Regions from separate parts of the Homo sapiens genome. Here region 2 is linked to region 1. Evidence: fine-mapped expression QTL. Tissue or cell type: thyroid. Region 1 holds a variant in brackets; the other region holds the start of a gene. All regions are shown on one strand. Distances are between the middles of the regions.

Region 1 (8,179 bases):
ATACCCTGTTTCTGGAGTCACATCAGTGAGGAGGGATGTGGGTAAGAGGAGCAGAGGGCAGGGGTGCTGTGGACATGTGGGTGGAGAAGGGAGGGTGGCCAGCACTAGTAAAGGAGGAATAGTGCTTGCTGGCCACAAGGAAAAGGAGGAGGTGTCTGGGGTGAGGGAGTTAGGGAGAGAGAAGCAGGCAGATAAGTTGGAGCAGGGGTTGGTCAAGGCCACCTCTGCCTCTAGTCCCCAAGGCCTCTCTCTGCCTGAAATGTTACACATTAAACAGGATTTTACAGTAAATGAAGAGGTGGCTTGTGTGTTTGTCAAGTTCTTTCTCCTGCAACCTCTGACCTCCCCCAGGATGAGCTGGCCTTGGTTTTTTACTGATTAAGAAAGGAACAGGGCAAAAGAAGTAGTTACTTGAGTAGCTGAAGCTGCAAATGAGGAAATCACTGTACTTCTGGGCCGCAGAGCCAGCCCCGGAGCCATTCCTCCCTGTTGCTTTTGTTGTTGTGGTTCTTGTCTTTTTCATTGTCTAATAACAGCTTTATTGGGATTTAGTTTACATACCTCCTTCCTCTGATTTTGAAAAGATTAAAAATGACAACTCCCTCTGAAGAGACAAGAAATGATTGGGAAATTTCTCCTGCCCCAGAGAGTGGCACAATTCCCTGGGTACCTCGGTGAGAGCCCCTCCCCCGCACATCTGGAGACCTATCTCCTTACTCCCTCCAAACTCAGCATCCCCTACAAGCTGATGTCCCACAGTCCACCTGTTGGGTTGCACGATGACCCTGACCCCTTTCAGCTGGACAGAGCCCCTAATTTCATCCTCTTTCCCAGTTTCCTTCTCTCAGGAATCAATGCTTCCCACTCCAGAGATGCCTCCACACAGGTCAAACATTTCATAGCAGCAGTTTCCTCACCAGCATCACCCTCCCCTGTCAGCTGTGGTAGGAAATGCCCCAGGCTGAGACTTGGAAAAGCTGCGCTGGAGTCCTGATGCTGTCACTTAGTAGCGGGGCATTCCCTTCCCCGAACCTCAGCTTCCTTATGAGCAAACGAGAACTGGCCCAGCACATCTCTCAGCTCCCTTCAACACTCTGTGCTTCTGGGATTCCTGAAAGATTTCCCCAAGTAACAGTGCATTATCTTCCCCCAGCCTCACAGGGGTTTCCTTAGAGTCACTGCCCCCACAAATAGCCTCTCAGAGTAAAAGTTTCCCCCATGGCAAGTTTGCCTCCTCAGCTTCCTTACCTCCGAACAGGAGAAATTATTTGCCACTCCCTCTCAGAGTATGTGGACTCCATGTAGGAAGTGCTGGATATCAGAAAGGGAGAGAAAATCAGACACAATCTCATGTGAATTGTTCTCCCTTGAGACAGTTTTTCCTCTTTGGAGAGAAAGCATGGAAGTTTTCTTTATTTGAGATTTCTCCTTTAGAAAAAAAAAAAAGGAAGACTGGATGTGGTGGCTCATGCCTGTAGTCCCAGCACTTTGGAAGGCCAAGGGGAGAGAATCACTTGAGCCCATGAGTTTGAGACCAGTCTGAGCAACATAGAGAGACCCCATCTCTACAAAAAAAATAAAATAAAACAATTAGTCAGGTGTGGTGGCATGTGCCTGTAGTCCCAAGCTATTTCGGATGCTGAGGTGGGAGGATAACTCGAGCCCAGGAGGAGGTTGAGGCTGCAGTCAGCTGTGATCACGCCACTGCACTCCAGCCCGGGCCAGAGAGTGAGACCTTGTCAAGAAAGAAACAAAGAAAGAAAAGGAAGGAAGGAAGGAAGGGAGGGAGGGAGAGAGGGAGGGAGGGAGGGAAGGAAATGAGACCTTTAGAGGCCGAAGCAAGAGGATTGCATGAGGCCAGGAGTTCAAGACTAGCCTGGACAGCATAGCAAGATCCTATCTCTATTTTTTTTTTTTTTGAGACGGAGTCTCGCTCTGTCACCCAGGCTGGAGTACAGTGGCGCGATCTCGGCTCACTGCAAGCTCCACCTCCCGGGTTCACGCTGTTCTCCTGCCTCAGCCTCCCGAGTAGCTGGGACAATAGGCGCCCGCCACCACGCCCGGCTAATTTTTTTTTGTATTTTTAGTAGAGACGGGGTTTCACTGTGTTAGCCAGGATGGTCTCAATCTCCTGACCTCGTGATCTGCCCGCCTCGGCCTCCCAAAGAGCTGGGATTACAGGTGTGAGCAACCGCGCCCGGCCTCCCATCTCTATTTTTAAAAAATTGAAAGAAAGAAAGGAGAGAGTAAGTATTCCTTTCCACCACACTTAGTAATCCCTGAGAGAGAGCTTCCTCTCCCTTAAAAGAGGAACATTCCTTTCCTACAAGAAATTTCCTTTCCCCTTAGAAACTGACATTATGTTCCATCAGAGGAGAGGTCCCCACCCCCTCACGGTGAGAGAGATTCCTTTTCTTATCGAAATCCATCCTTTTCACCCACAACAATACAACAAACACATCCCCTCTCCATACAACATGCCATCAGGAGAAAGATTTTCTTTTTAAAATTCCATCCTGGTCCTGGTCGGAAGCAGGGAACCTCATGCCCTCTCCACATTGAGAAATGCTAACCCCCACCATCACATCAGAAATGTAGTTTCTCTTCAAAGATTCTACCAATCCCCCTTGGAAAGAGGCTCCAACTCTATATCAAGGCTTTCCTCTCCAGGGGGCAGTGGTGGGACAATAAAGCTATCAGGCTGGGTGTTACAGCCCAAGTGGGGGACACAGGATTCTTGGGTCCCATGAACCAGGTAGGAACAGGCCCAAGGAACCTTGAGGGGAGCTGGTGGACACAATGTCTCAGGGAGGTAGGAGGCAGAGTTAGACTGACTCCAAGACTGACTTTTCAAATCAGGCTCTGTCACAAGAGTATAAGAGAGAGACACAGAGGCAAATGAGGCATGCTCTCTGCCACGCAGTAGAAATTCAATGTGCTGAGTGACCTGGGTTATGAAGAGGACACTGGAATTAGGAGACCTCGTTCTCCACTGATGAGCTCTGTCCCCTTGGACACGTGATATTTACCCTCTCCAGGTCTGTTTCCTCATCTCCAATAGAGAGTTAATAATAACCTCTCTACCTCTTTCACAGAACTTTTTTGAGAATCAGACAAGATGTGTTCAAAAGCTGGTTATGAACTAACGGTAAAGTAAGGTAAGATAGTATCATAAGCACTGAGACCATGGCCTTACGACATGCTAGAATTCTCAATGAGCCAGAAAGGAGTGAGGCTGGTTCAGGTAGGCTGAAGCTAGTTAAAACAATTTG[G/T]CAATAATAGTGTTGGCTCCCCCAGGGAGTGGACACCAGTCCAAACAGCAAAGTCCAAGAGAGGTTGCAAACCTGAGCATGATTCATTTAAGGGTCAATATTCAAGGGGTCTGATCAGGGGGCAGAAAAGGCATAGTAACAGGAAGCTCTTGCATGCTGTATCTCATGGAACTGGTCCTTTTAGGAATGTCTATGATCTTTTAGAGGTGTCTATGCACAGAGATGCCAGGAGCTGGGGGGCAAAGGAACAGAGGCAGATGAACTAGGAGAGTAATCAAGGCCTCCAGCCAGCTGAGTTGGGGTTTGAAAGCAAGCTGTGGTATCCATAGAGAATTGGCATGGCAACCACAAACTGGTTCAGATGTTCAATCAGATAGCCTGGGTGCACACAGTGGGGGCTAGAGGGGAATGCTTGCTCCATTTACTGATTCCAAAGTACTTAAATGCCAGACCTGGCCTATGGTGCAGAAGGGGCTACACAATCGTACCAAGCTAAGCTCCTGTTGATTCCTGGAGTAGGCCAGGGAGAATGTACAGGGTCAAATGGAAAATGGATTGGGACATTCCAGCAAGGGGCAAATAAAACAGACAAAAAATACCCTACAGATATGACAGGAATTGGCTGGGCACAGTGGCTGTTGCCTGTAATCCCAGCAATTTGGGAAGCCAAAGCAGGCAGATCACTTGAAGCCAGGAGTTCGAGACCATCCTGGCCAACATGGTGAAACACTGTCTCTACTAAAAATACAAAAATTAGCCAGGCGTGGTGGCACATGCCCATAGTCCCAGCTACTCAGGAGGCTGAGGTGGGAGAATTGCTTGAATCCGGGAGGTGGAGGTTGCAGTGAGCCGAGATCGCGCCACTGCACTCCAGCCTGAGTGACAGAGTGAGTGAGACTCCATCACAAAAAAAAAAAAAAAAAAAAAAAAAAGCCAGGCACGGTGGCTCACGCCTGTAATCCCAGCACTTTGGGAGGCCGAGGCAGGTGGATCACTTGAGGTCAGGAGTTTGAGACCAGCCTGGCCAACATGGTGAAACCCCGTCTCTACCAAAAATACAAAAATTAGCCCCGTGTGGTGGCGCACGCCTGTAATCTCAGCTACTTGGGAGGCTGAGGCATAAGAATCGCTTGAACCTGGGAGGCAGAGGTTGCAATGAGCCGAGATCATGCCACTGCACTCCAGCCTGGGTGACAGAGCGACTCTGTCTCAAAAAAAAAAAAAAGGTATGACGGGGGTGATACCTTCAAACTTGTGTGTTTGGAAGGTCAGCCAGCAGCTGCATGGAGACTGGATTGGGGATTGAAGACTGAGACAGATTGACCAGGTACTGCCAGGTGCAGTGGCACACCTGTGGTCCCACCTACTTGGGAGGCTGAGGTGGAAGGATTCCTTGAACCCAAGACTTTGAGACCAGTCTGGTCAACATAGTGAGACCCTGTCTCTAAAAAAAAAGACCAGTTATGGAGCTGTTGCAATAGCCCAAGTGGCGCCTGTAGGACTAGGACAGTGGCAGAGGAATATGAAGAGGAGACAGGTGTGAGAGACATTTTGGATGTAGAACCTACAACAGGACTTCATGTCTGAGTTGTGGGGTGTGGAAGAGCCAAAGGTAATTTGAGGTTTCCTTTCCCTCCTTTGACTGGAAAGCTCCTAATCATTCAAAACTCATCTCAAACGTCGTTTCCTCTGTGAAGCCATCAACTCTTCTTTCCCCGCTGATCAAGTCCCTTGGAGAGACTCTCCAATTCAGACCTCCACTCTGAATTCCCACAATATGACTGTGGTGTATGTGATAAGAGCGCTTATCACATTATATGGTGCCAGGTGCGGTGACTCACACTTGTAATCCTAGCTGCTCAAGAAGATGAGGTGGGAGGATTGCTTGGAGACCAGCCTGGACTACACAGTGAGACCCCATCTCTAAAAAATACCACCACCACCACCACCACCACACACACACAAAAAAGAAAAGCACACAGGCCAGGCACAGTGGCTCACGCCTGTAATCCCAGCACTTTGGGAGGCTGAAGCAGGCGGATCTGTTGAGGCCAGGAGTTCAAGACCAGCCTGGTCAATATGGCAAAACCCTGTCTCTATTAAAAATACAAAAATCAGGCAGGCGTGGTGGTGGGCGCCTGTAGTCCCACCTACTCAGGAGGCTGAGGCAGGAGAATCAGTTGAACCTGGGAGGCAGAGGCTGCAGTAAGCCGAGATCGTGCCACTGTACTCCAGCCTGGGTGACAGAGTGAGACTCTGAAAAAAAGGAAGGAAGGAAGGAAGGAGGGAGGGAGGGAGGGAGGGAGGAAGGAAAGAAAGATTAGCTCATAAAATCTGTCTTAAAAAAAGAAAGAGGCCAGGTGCGGTGGCTCACGTCTGTAATCCCAGCACTTTGGGAGGCCTAGGCAGGTGGATCTCTTGAGGCCAGGAATTGGAGACCAGCCTGGCCAACATGGCGAAACCCTGTCTCTATTAAAAATAGAAAAATCAGCTGGGCCTGGTGGCACTCGCCTGTCATCCCAGCTACTTGGGAGGCTGAAGCAGGAGAATTGCTTGAACCCAGGAGGGGGAGGTTGCAGTGAACTGAGATCATGCTATTGTGCTCCAGCCTGGCTGACAGAGCAAGACTCCATCAGAAAGAAAGAAAGAAAGAAAGAGAGGAAGGAAGGAAGGAAGGAAGGAAGGAAGGAAGGAAGGAAGGAAGGAAGGAGAAGGGGAAGGGGAAGGGGAAGGAAGAGGGGGAAGGGGGAAGGGGGGAAGGGAGGGAGGAAAAGAAAGAAACTATTGTGTGGTAATCACTTGCATAAGCTTAACACATAGTAGGTGCTTAGTAGCCTGTGGGATTCAGGGCAGCGGGGAGGAAGACATATGCATGTGCAAAGATTCAGAGTCGTGAGAGAGTAGAATGTGTTCACTGTGACTAGAGCAGAAAATGCATGGGATGGGGAGTGGGGTGGTTGCAGTAGGAGGTGAGACTGGCAAAGCAGGTCGGGGCTGGTCAGTGAAAAGTCTCATAGAAATGCATGCAGGTTTGCACAGGAGTCTGGACTCCAGTATCACGTGTAGAAGCCCTTCTGACATAAAAGTTAAGCCCCTACTAGACTAACAGGCAATTCTGTACTCATGATCATGGATGGACTGTAGAGGTCTTCAGGAGATCCAGATCAGGGCAGACCTTTGCACAAACAGATGTGTTAAAGTTGACAGTGAACTATGGAAGAAAGACCAGAATTATTTGAAAGTGGACTTCAAGGAGAAAGCGTAATTTACACAGGATGGTGACCAACTGTTCTCCATTTTTTTCACCACAACTGAAGCCCCTGTGAAAAGTTAGTGTCACATAGTGATTAAGACCAATGTTGGCCAGGTGCAGTGGCTCACGCCTGTAATCCCAGCACTTTGGGAGGCTGAGGTGGGCAGATCGCCTGAGGTCGGGAGTTCGAGACCAGCCTGACCAACATGGAGAAACTCTGTCTCTGCTAAAAATACAAAATTAGCCAGGCGTGGTGGCGCATGCCTGTAATCCCAGCTACTCAGGAAGGCTGAGGCAGGAGAATAGCTTGAGCCCGGGAGGCGGAAGTTGCAGTGAGGCGAGATCGCACCATTGCATTCTAGCCTGGGTAACAAGAGTGAAACTGTCTCCAAAAAAAAAAAAAAGCATTGTTTACTTCCTACTTTTGTGAGTTTGACCATGTTACTTGGCCACTCTAGGCCTTAGTTTCCTCATCTATAAAGCATGAGTACCTGTGTCACAGGGCTGTAGTGAGGATTAAATGTGTCCATTATATATAAAGCACTTCAAACAAGGCCTGGTCGATAGTAAGCCCTACACAAGGGTGTGCTGTTATTATTTCATCTCACCATCTTCGCTGTTTCTCCAGCTATTCACCAATTCTCTCAAACACTGAGTTAAACTCTGTCTCACCTAATTAACATGCTTGCTTTTTTTTTTTTTTAGACAGGGTCTCACTCTGTTGCCCAGGCTGTAATGCAGTGGTGCCATCATAGCTCACTGCAACCCCAAACTCCTAGCTCCAGTGATCCTCCCTCCTCAGCCTCCCAAAGGGCTGGGATTACAGGCGTGAGCCACTGTGCCTGGCTTAACATGTTTTCTTGACTGTCTAACTGTCCATAGTCATGTGCGTGTGCTTAAGCAAGCAAGTCTGTATGTTTGCATGCATATGATATATCATTGTATTGATACATATGACCACATTAACATGTATGTGGGAGGATGGCTGTGAGGGGAGTGCCTTTTTTTTTTTTTTGAGATGGAGTCTTGCTCTGTCGCTCAGGCTGGAGTGCAATGGCGCAATCTTGGCTCACTGCAACCTCCGCCTCCTGGTTTCAAGGGATTCTCCTGCCTCAACCTCCTGAGTAGCTGGGATTACAGGCGTGTCCCACCAACCTGGCTAATTTTTGTATTTTTTTTGTAGAGATGGGGTTTCACCATGTTGGCCAGGCTGGTCTCCAACTCCTGACCTCAGGTAATCCGCCTGCCTTGGCCTCCCAAAGTGCTGGGATTACAGGCGTGATCCACTGCGCTCTGCCAAGTGCCTTAACTCTTAATGTAGTTTTAATGAAAAGGATGTGTCCCAATCATAATATGGTCTGCAACTTTATTACCAGACTTAGAAATGACTTAGGTGGGCCAGGCGCACCATACTATGGAGCACCTAATATGTGCCAGATTTGGTGCTACATTAAGCACTGACATGTATAATCTCAGTACTGGCAAGGTAGCTATTATTATCCCCATACTTGTAGATGAGGAAATGGAGACTCAGAGAAGTTAAGTAATATGTCCAAAGGTTGCACTGCAGAGCTAGAATTAAAACCTAGTCCCATTCTAATCCAAAACCTGCACTGTTTCCTCTATTCCAAAGTAACCACTCTGGCTGGGCACG
Region 2 (8,179 bases), 26 kb after region 1:
GCAGTGGTGTCCGGCAATGTGCACAAGTCATCTTGGTGCCCACTGCAGAGCGCCCGGCCCTTTGTGACACACTTGAGCGTAGGGACATGCGAGGAGAGCGCCGGGGCCGGAATGGCACAAAGTCCTCATCATTGGGGTCATCTACCATGGCATCAGAATCCTCATCTGACACTGGAACTGAGAAAGTGGGGGGATGGACATGAGAAAGGCCACCAAACCAGGTCTCCAACCATCCCCTGACCAACAGTTCAGTCCCTCTCCTGGGATCCCTGTTGTTCCGGCCTTTACACCCTGGCCCTTGTTACATCAGTATCTTAAGACCTTGGTGTCTCTCTCCCTTGGTTACTCTGTAACCTCCCAGGGAGGGAAAGGGAGAGGCTCTAAATGAGAAGATTCGGAGACAGAGATGGCATAGCTGAAACAGGAAACTCGCCATTCTCACTGCTCTTGTTTTCAATTTCCCCCACTGCCCCTGGTTCCCATGCCAACCCATAGCAGAGACAGGCACTTCATGCGCTTCATGGAGCAGGACGGCAGGAGCTAGAAGATCCATGCCCTGCCGCATGCCACTTTCGGACCTTTTCCACACCCAGAACTCCCAGGTCACACTTCCTCAAATCCTACTTACTGCTCTCAGTGGAATCTACAACCTCAGGTTTTGGAGGTTCTGCTCTCCTAACGCGCTCGCTTCTCTTCTGTACCTCGGAAAGATGGGAGGGGAGGAAAACTGACACCCTGGCCAGGCTAACACTAGTACAGGGTTTGGGGGGGGATAGAAGATGGGAGGGGGAAGGGAGAGTGGGGACCCTTGGCCCAGCCCTTAGGAGGAGGGAAGAAAAGGAGGTTGGACTTTCTCCCCAACAAGCAGTAGACACTAGTGCTCCCTCCCTCCTCCTAACTCTCCTTACACACACTCTCTACAGAACAACATCTGGGAGGGAAAATGAAGGGTCTGTCCTTCCCAGAGCTAAGGGGGAACCAGACTCCTTCCAATCCCCTCCCCCTCACCCGTTCAGGCGGCTTCTCACTCGCCTTCGCAGTCAGGCCATCTCCTGCAAAGGAAGCAGAAGGCAGCCTAAATGTTGAGCCTGCCCTCACCACCCTCTCCCCGGCCCAACCCCCGCCTCCATTCCTGGGGAAGAACTTACTCAAAACTGAAAGGGAAAACTCGAGTGCCTGTGGCTTCTTGGGGCCCCTCTCAGGGTTACCTCAGGCTCTGTACTAAGGGTGGGGGGGTGCACGTGCAGCTATTCCATGAAAAAAAAAAAATCTATCCTTCCCACCAGCTTTCTGTCCCAATCCTTGGGGGTTAAGGAAACACAGGTAATATACCTTTCATTAAGAATTTATATTTTACCAATGAAAAACACACACAACCACCCAAAGGTAGCAAAAGGAAAAGGAAGCATCAGTGTATGGGTAGCTTCCCCTGGATTCAGGTGGTTATATAAGCCCTAAGACCCTCGTCACAGCCTGATAGAGGCACACCACTAGGCAGAAGAGGGGAGACACTAGAGCCTCTCAAGTCAAGGTTGTCCCTCCCCTATCAGAGACGCAATCCTAGACCCTGCATTTCTATCGCTCTGCTGAAATCCTTATGCTGTTAGGGGCTCCAGAACCTAGTTACCATTCATCAAACCCAGAAATCCCACTCCCATCTAGAACCAAAAAGCTGTAAAGGTCTTAGAACCAAGAAGCCTGGTGTACTCCCCCAAATCCTGAAGGAAGGACTCTGGCACCAAAAGCCCACTGGGGTAGGAAAAAGGGAACCCTTCCCACCAAATTCACTCCTCCCAACCTACGCTCCCTGAAACCTTACCCCATTCCTCCCCCACAGCCTGTGCCCACCCCTACTTTCCTTAATCTTCCTCTACACACCACCCCACTCCTCCCTCGTAAACCCCAAGTCCTTCCCCACACACATCCCTACACTTATCTCTCCACCCTCCTCCTCCCCACTACTTCCCAAAGCACATAGCCACCCCTCCTTACCACCACCCTCTCCCAGCCCTGATTCTCCAGATAATTAGGCAACCTACCTGGCAAGGAAGGATGTGCAGGGGGGCTAGAGCCCCCAGGTTTGGTCTGAGAACTGTTGATTCCATCCCCCAGAGTCTCTCCCACTGAAGGGCTAGGCGGGGCATTTGGGCTCTGTGGCTGCCCTTGGGGAAGCTCCTCCTCCTGCCCAGGGGAGCCCCTTCTTGCAGTAGCTATGGAGGTGGTCTCCTCCTCTTCAATATGTGGGGACTGCAGTGTTATTGGAGAATCTGGAGCCAAAGGCTCTAGTAGCCCCTCAGGTGAACAGGAATTTGCCCCAGCCCCTGGATCAGGTGGTACCACCTCAGGGGTCTGGCCCCCTGGTCCAGGCTCTAGGGTCTGATCTCCTGCATCCCATGCCAGGGTTCCCTCAGGACCGTGGTCCACCTCCGGGGGAGAGGGGGCTTTATAGAGCAGCCCCCCCAGCCCCAGCAACTCAGTGGCTCCATCCAGGACTCCAGGGTCTTTTTCCAGGCCAGCAGGGGTATCAAGCAGGTCCAGGGCTCCCGAGGATGGAGAAGGGCCAGGGGGGGCCCATCCTCGAGTTGGGGCAGTCTGGGATTCCAGTAGATCCTCTCCAAATTCCATGTCTACTGGTAGGTCTCCAGCCAGGGGCTTCTCTGGCAGGGTCAATGGGTCAAATGGACTGGGGAAATCACTGGGGTCCATGAGTATGGCTGGATATGTACTGCAGATTAGGAGTAGAAGAGGGGGCAGTAGAGGTGGTCTTAGCCTGAATTCCTTCTTATATAGGCTCTGAGACACACCCCATCATCCACTTGGATTTCTCATGAGCAGCCCCCACCACCACAATCTACAAGCATTTCCGAAGGCTTTAGTCCTAATGACCACTCCCCCCAATACAGCGCCCCCAGTGGGGAGAGGCGTTCCCCGCCCTGGCCCCGTGCCCACACTGGCCAGGCAGTCGGTCGTTCTACCCGCCCACCCCCCTACTCGACTGCAACTCCCATTCCCTTCCCCCCTTACCTTTTACCCCCCGCAACTCAGGCTGAACGCCCCCTTAGAGTCTCCTAAGGCCGTCGCCACCAGGAGCCTTTCCCGCCCCCGCGATCTCAGTTTCTATTCCCTCCCCACTCTGCAGGAGCCCCCCAGCTCCCCAGTCTTTACCCACCCTGTCTGGCCCCACCCCCCCTCCCCGCGTTGCTAGGTCCTCCCTCGGCCCTTCCCCCGCCCCCACAAACTGCCCTTCGCAACCCCTTCCCCCCAGTTACCTTTCAGGTCGCCCACTTCCTCAGCCCCGTCCCCCTTTCCCATTGCTCCTCCAGTCCTCCCTTCTCCTGTTGCCCACCCCCAACCTCAGGCATTTACAGGAAGACATTTTGGAGCTACGATCTCTCCTTAGACCCCCCCACCACCGCCTCCCGGCTACTGCAAGATCCCGCTTGCAGGTTCGGTTCGGCTTGAGCAGGCCCGACCCCTACCTGCGGCAGGGTTAGTGCAAAGGCTACAAGCCTAGAACTGCAGACAGCGACGGCCCCGCGCTCCTTCTCTACCTCCCTCCCTAGCAGCCGGGACAGGGGTCGCGGCCCCTTTAAATGGCAGCGCCGCTCGCAGCGCCCAGCGCTCTGCACCAGGCGGGCGGGCGGTGCCAGCAACCAACCCCATTGGCTGGCTCGAGGAGGGGGCTCGCGAGACAGCGCCGGCCCCCGGCGCGAGACTCCCAGTCCAGTGGCCGCCTGGAAATTGCGGAGTGGAATGCAGCCACTAGAGACGGCGCCTGAGCCCCCGCCCGGGGCCCCGTTAGTTGAGAAGGAAAAGATAGCCTCTGGAGCTTTGAAGCCGGCCCCCCGGGAAAGGCGGCGTCCCCTTTCCACCCAAGGGCCGAGTGCGCTCACCCACAAAAAACACAGATCTACGCACCTGCTCCCCTTACCTGGCTCAAGAGTCTGGCCCCCGTCACACCCTGCTCGCCCTACCTCCTGGAGCCCACTCTACCCGTGATCCCCTCCTCTCATTCAAATGGTTCCCGGTCCCCTCCCCCTCCCCGTGTCTCTCTTAGCTTCCCACTCGTGTTCACCCCCTCGGCGTCCGCCCCCCTCAATAGTCCCTACCTACGCCATGCAGCAGGCGCCTGCCAAGATTACCCTCCCCCATCCCCACCTCTCCGGGTCCCGCCCCCTGGGCGACTGTTGGGGTAGTGAGTGACAGCGGAGGACGGGGGGAGGCAGGGACCCAGCCCTCACGTGCCCCTCCTTCCCTTGTCTGCAGCCACGGGGCCCCCAAAACAGTCTGAGAGTCAGAGTTATGGGGTATCTGAAGCTTGATCCCCAGCCACACAGGTCGGGTTAAATGGCTCTGGCTCAGTGGCAACGCCTGTGCAGTAACCGTTACTGCTTGATGACCCCCAAACCAGGTCCTGCAAAGCTACCCCCTACTCTCTCAACAGTCTTAGGGTAAGTTCTGGGATCTTCTCCCTGAGTCTTCCTGCAGGAGCTCCCTGTATTATCTATGGAGTTTTCCTCCCTCACCAGGGCTGATCTCTCTCTCTCTCTCTCTCTCTCTCTCTCTCTCTCTCTCTCTCTCTCTCTCTCTCTCTCTCTCTGTATCTCTCTCTCTCTTTCTCCTCCAGCCCCCTTTCTGTCCTTGTCTGTCTCTCTCTTCTCGCTCTCTCTCTCTCTCTCCCCCTATCTCTTTTTGTCTCCTTCTCTGCCTCTCTGCTTCTCGTGCGCACGAGCACGCAGGCGCGCTACACGCTCCCCCCTCCTGGATGGTCCTTAGCATGTGGGTGTGGCTGAGGTTAGGCTAGAGAAGTGGAGTAGGGGTAGGTGGCACTAGCGTTAAGCCTACTGCCTTTAAAAAATTGTGCCAGCATCCATTCTCAGTCCGCATTATATTAATAGTTAGAGCACTTTACAATCCCCGCTCCCCACTTCCCACCACAGCCCCTAAGGGCTGAGAGCATTTAGTAGCCGAACTACTAGAGGAGGCTCAGGCTGGAAGGAAGTCTCCTTAGGAACAGGAAGGTTTGGTATCCAGTGCCTATTCTAGCCTGCCTCGTTGACTTCTGGCCTCTCCTCCTGGCCACACAAAGCCTCTCCTGCTCTTGTAGTCCTCGGGAGTTTACCCTCCCTTTTCTCATTCCTTTTCCCAGAAACCTTATCCTTGCTAGCTCCCCACATGGCCTTGAGGTTATCTTTGCTCCCTCCTACATACAGAGATAAAAGCCAGAGTTTCTTACTTTTAGATTTCCCAAATCCAGCTTTCTCTTTGTCTTAACCAGCATTCTGTGTACCCATCTCCTACCTCCTGTTTATTTCTATTCCTGGACCTCCCCTTTGCATTTTCTGCTTGTTCCATCTCAGTTGAGCCACCTAGTTTTTTCTGTATTGCCTGCCTTCCTCAACATATACTTGAATCCTTGGCTGCTCTGCTTGTGGAGGTGCCTGGTCACTATCTTTCAAGTTGAGGGGAGCTGATCTAACGGGGTTAAGTGGTGTGTTATTAATTCTAGACGCAGTGTGGTGGCCTAAGAATGGGTTCTGGAGTCAGACCAGATTTCTAATATCAGTTCTGCCTACTTTTTAGCCAGGTGACTTTGGACAAGTGACTTGTCAAGTGAAGGGCCTTAGTTTTCTCCTCTTTAAAACAGATAAGGAAACAATCTAAATGCCCAATAATAGGGGATTTTGGTTATGCAACAGACGTAGTCATTAACAACCACATTTTAAGTCTGGCGCAGTGACTCACGCCTGTAATCCTGGCACTTTGGGATGCCAAGACGGTTGGATCCTTTGAGCCCGGGAGTTCCAAACCAGCCTGAGCAACATGGTGAAACCCCTTCTCTACAAAAAATACAAAAAATTAGCAAGGTGTGCTGGTGTGCACCTGTAGTCCCAGCTACTCAGGAGGCGGAGGTGTGAGGATCACTTGAGCTGGGAGGCAGAAATTGCAGCGAGCTCAGATGGCGCCACTGCACTCCAGCCCGGGGCGACAGACGAGGGCTCTGTCTCAAACCAAACAAAACAAAACCCCACATTAAAAAAACAAAAACAAAAAACAACTAATGGCAGACAGCACAGAGGATTTTTACGGTAGCGAAAATACTCTCATGATACTGTAATAGTGGATACTTGTAAGTATACATTTGTTCAAAGATACAGAATGTAAACACCAAGGGTGAACTAACTCTAATGTAAACCGCAGGCTTTGGTTAGTAATGATGTGTTAATGTAGGTTCATCGATTTTAACAAATTTACCACTCTGATAGGGATGTTGGTAGTCAGGGGAGCCGTGACTGCATGGGGGAAGGAGGTATATGGGACTCTCCGGACCTACCTGTCAGTTTTGCTGTGAAACTAAAATTGCTCTTAAAAAATAAAATCTTTATTTAAAAAAATTAAAACCCATAGAATGTACAACACCAAAAGGAAGCCCTTATGTAAACTATGGCCTTTGGTTGATAATGTGTCACTGTATATTCATCACTGCAAGAAATTTACCACTCTGGACAGGATGTTGATAGGGAGGCTGTGTCTGTGTGTGGAGAGGGGTACAAAGGACTCTTGATACTTTCAGCTCAATTTTGCAGTGATGCCAAAACTGCTCTAAAAAATAAAGTGGGCCTGGTGCAGTAACTCCTGTAATCCCAGCACTTTGGGAGTCAGGAGAATCGCTTGAACCCGGGAGGCGGAGGTTGTGGTAAGCTGAGACTGAGCCACTGCACTCCAGCCTGGGCCACAGAGCGAGACTTCATCTCTCAAATATATATATATATATGTTTTGTTTTGTTTTGTTTTGTTTTTGAGACGGAGTCTTGCTCTGTCGCCCAGGCTGGAGTGCAGTGGCCCAATCTCAGCTCACCGCAAGCTCCACCTCCCGGGTTCACGTCATTCTCCTGCCTCAGGCTCCCGAGTAGCTGGGACTACAGGCGCCCGCCACCACGCCCGGCTAATTTTTTGTATTTTTAGTAGAGATGGGGTTTCACCGTGTTAGCCAGGATGGTCTCAATCTCCTGACCTCGTGATCCACCCGCCTCGGCCTCCCAAAGTGCTGGGATCACAGGCGTGAGCCACCGCGCCTGACCGTAAATAAAATTTTTATTTAAAAAAATTTAGGCCGAGCGCAGAGGCTCACGCCTGTGATCCCAGCACTTTGGGAGGTCGAGGTGGGTGGATTGCTTGAGCTCAGGAGTTGGAGACCAGACTGGGCAACACGGTGAAACCCCATCTCTACCAAAAGCACAAAAAATTATCCAGGCGTAGTGGTGCACGCCTGTGGTCCCAGCTACTCAAGAGGGTAAGGCTGGAGGTTGCAGTAAGCCGAGATTGTGCCACTGTCCCCAGCCTGGGCGATAGAGCAAGACTCTGTCTCAAAAAAATAAATAAATATATAAATAAAAATAATTTTCTGCATTTTGTATTTACTAAACTTTTTTTTTTTTTTTTTGAGACAGAGTCTCACTCTGTCTCCCAGGCTGGAGTGCAGTGGCATGGTCTCGGCTCACTGCAACCTCTGCTTCTCAGGTTCAAGCGATCCTTATGCCTCAGCCTCCCGAGTAGCTGGAACTACAGGCGTGTGCCACCACACCAGCTAATTTTTGTATTTTTTTTAGTACAGATGGGTTCCACCATGTTGGCTATGGTTGGTCTCGAACTCCTGACCTCAAGTGATCCACCCACCTCGGCCTCCCAAAGTGCTGGGATTGCTAAAGGCGTGAGCCACCACTCCCAGCCTTGTATTTTCTAAACTGTTCTACTGAGCACATATTGTTTTTATAATCATGAAAAAATGTTAGCACCTAAAAATAAGGGCTGGCCAGGCACGGTGGGAGGCCGCACTTTGGGAGGCCGAGGCGGATGGATCATTTGAGGTCAGGACTTCAAGACCAGCTTGACCAACGTGGTGAAACCCGTCTCTACTAAAAAATACAAAAATTAGCTGGCGTGGTGGCAGCTCAGGAGTTCGAGACAAGCCTGGGCAACATGGTGAAACCCTGTCTCTACCAAAAATACAAAAAATTATCTGAGGGCAGTGGTGCATGCATGTGGTCCCAGCTACTCGGGAGGGTAAGGCTGGAGGTTGCAGTGAGCCAGGATTGTGCCACTGCCCTCCAGCCTGGGTGATAGAGCAAGACCCTGTCTCAAAAAATATATATATATAAATAAAAATAATTTTCTGCAT

Alleles and levels. Alleles are on the strand shown, and positions count from the first base shown. SD is a standard deviation of normalised expression in the study named.
For the expression in thyroid of the gene that starts at base 3,591 in region 2, allele T in region 1 goes with a higher level than allele G (small effect, 0.17 SD a copy in GTEx).

The links. PIP is the estimated chance that this variant, and not a neighbour inherited with it, causes the effect.
Region 2: it holds the start of ZMYM3, and the variant in region 1 is fine-mapped to the expression of ZMYM3 in thyroid (GTEx, PIP above 0.99).

Annotation. Positions count from the first base shown.
Region 1 is chrX:71,224,908-71,233,086 of GRCh38, forward strand. It overlaps GJB1 (gap junction protein beta 1), which reads left to right. Exons shown (of 2, transcript NM_000166.6): 2 at 1-609. Among named protein-coding and RNA genes, the nearest start is that of GJB1, 5.8 kb to the left of the region's middle. The variant G/T (reference allele first, on the strand shown) is at 3,273.
Region 2 is chrX:71,250,550-71,258,728 of GRCh38, forward strand. It overlaps ZMYM3 (zinc finger MYM-type containing 3), which reads right to left and starts at 3,591. Exons shown (of 25, transcript NM_201599.3): 1 at 3,480-3,591; 2 at 2,040-2,725; 3 at 1,009-1,052; 4 at 629-695; 5 at 1-177. The coding sequence starts at 2,706. It overlaps LOC105373247 (a long non-coding RNA gene), which reads left to right and starts at 4,259. Exons shown (of 4, transcript XR_938434.2): 1 at 4,259-4,451. RefSeq lists silencers at 4,087-4,136, 4,157-4,206.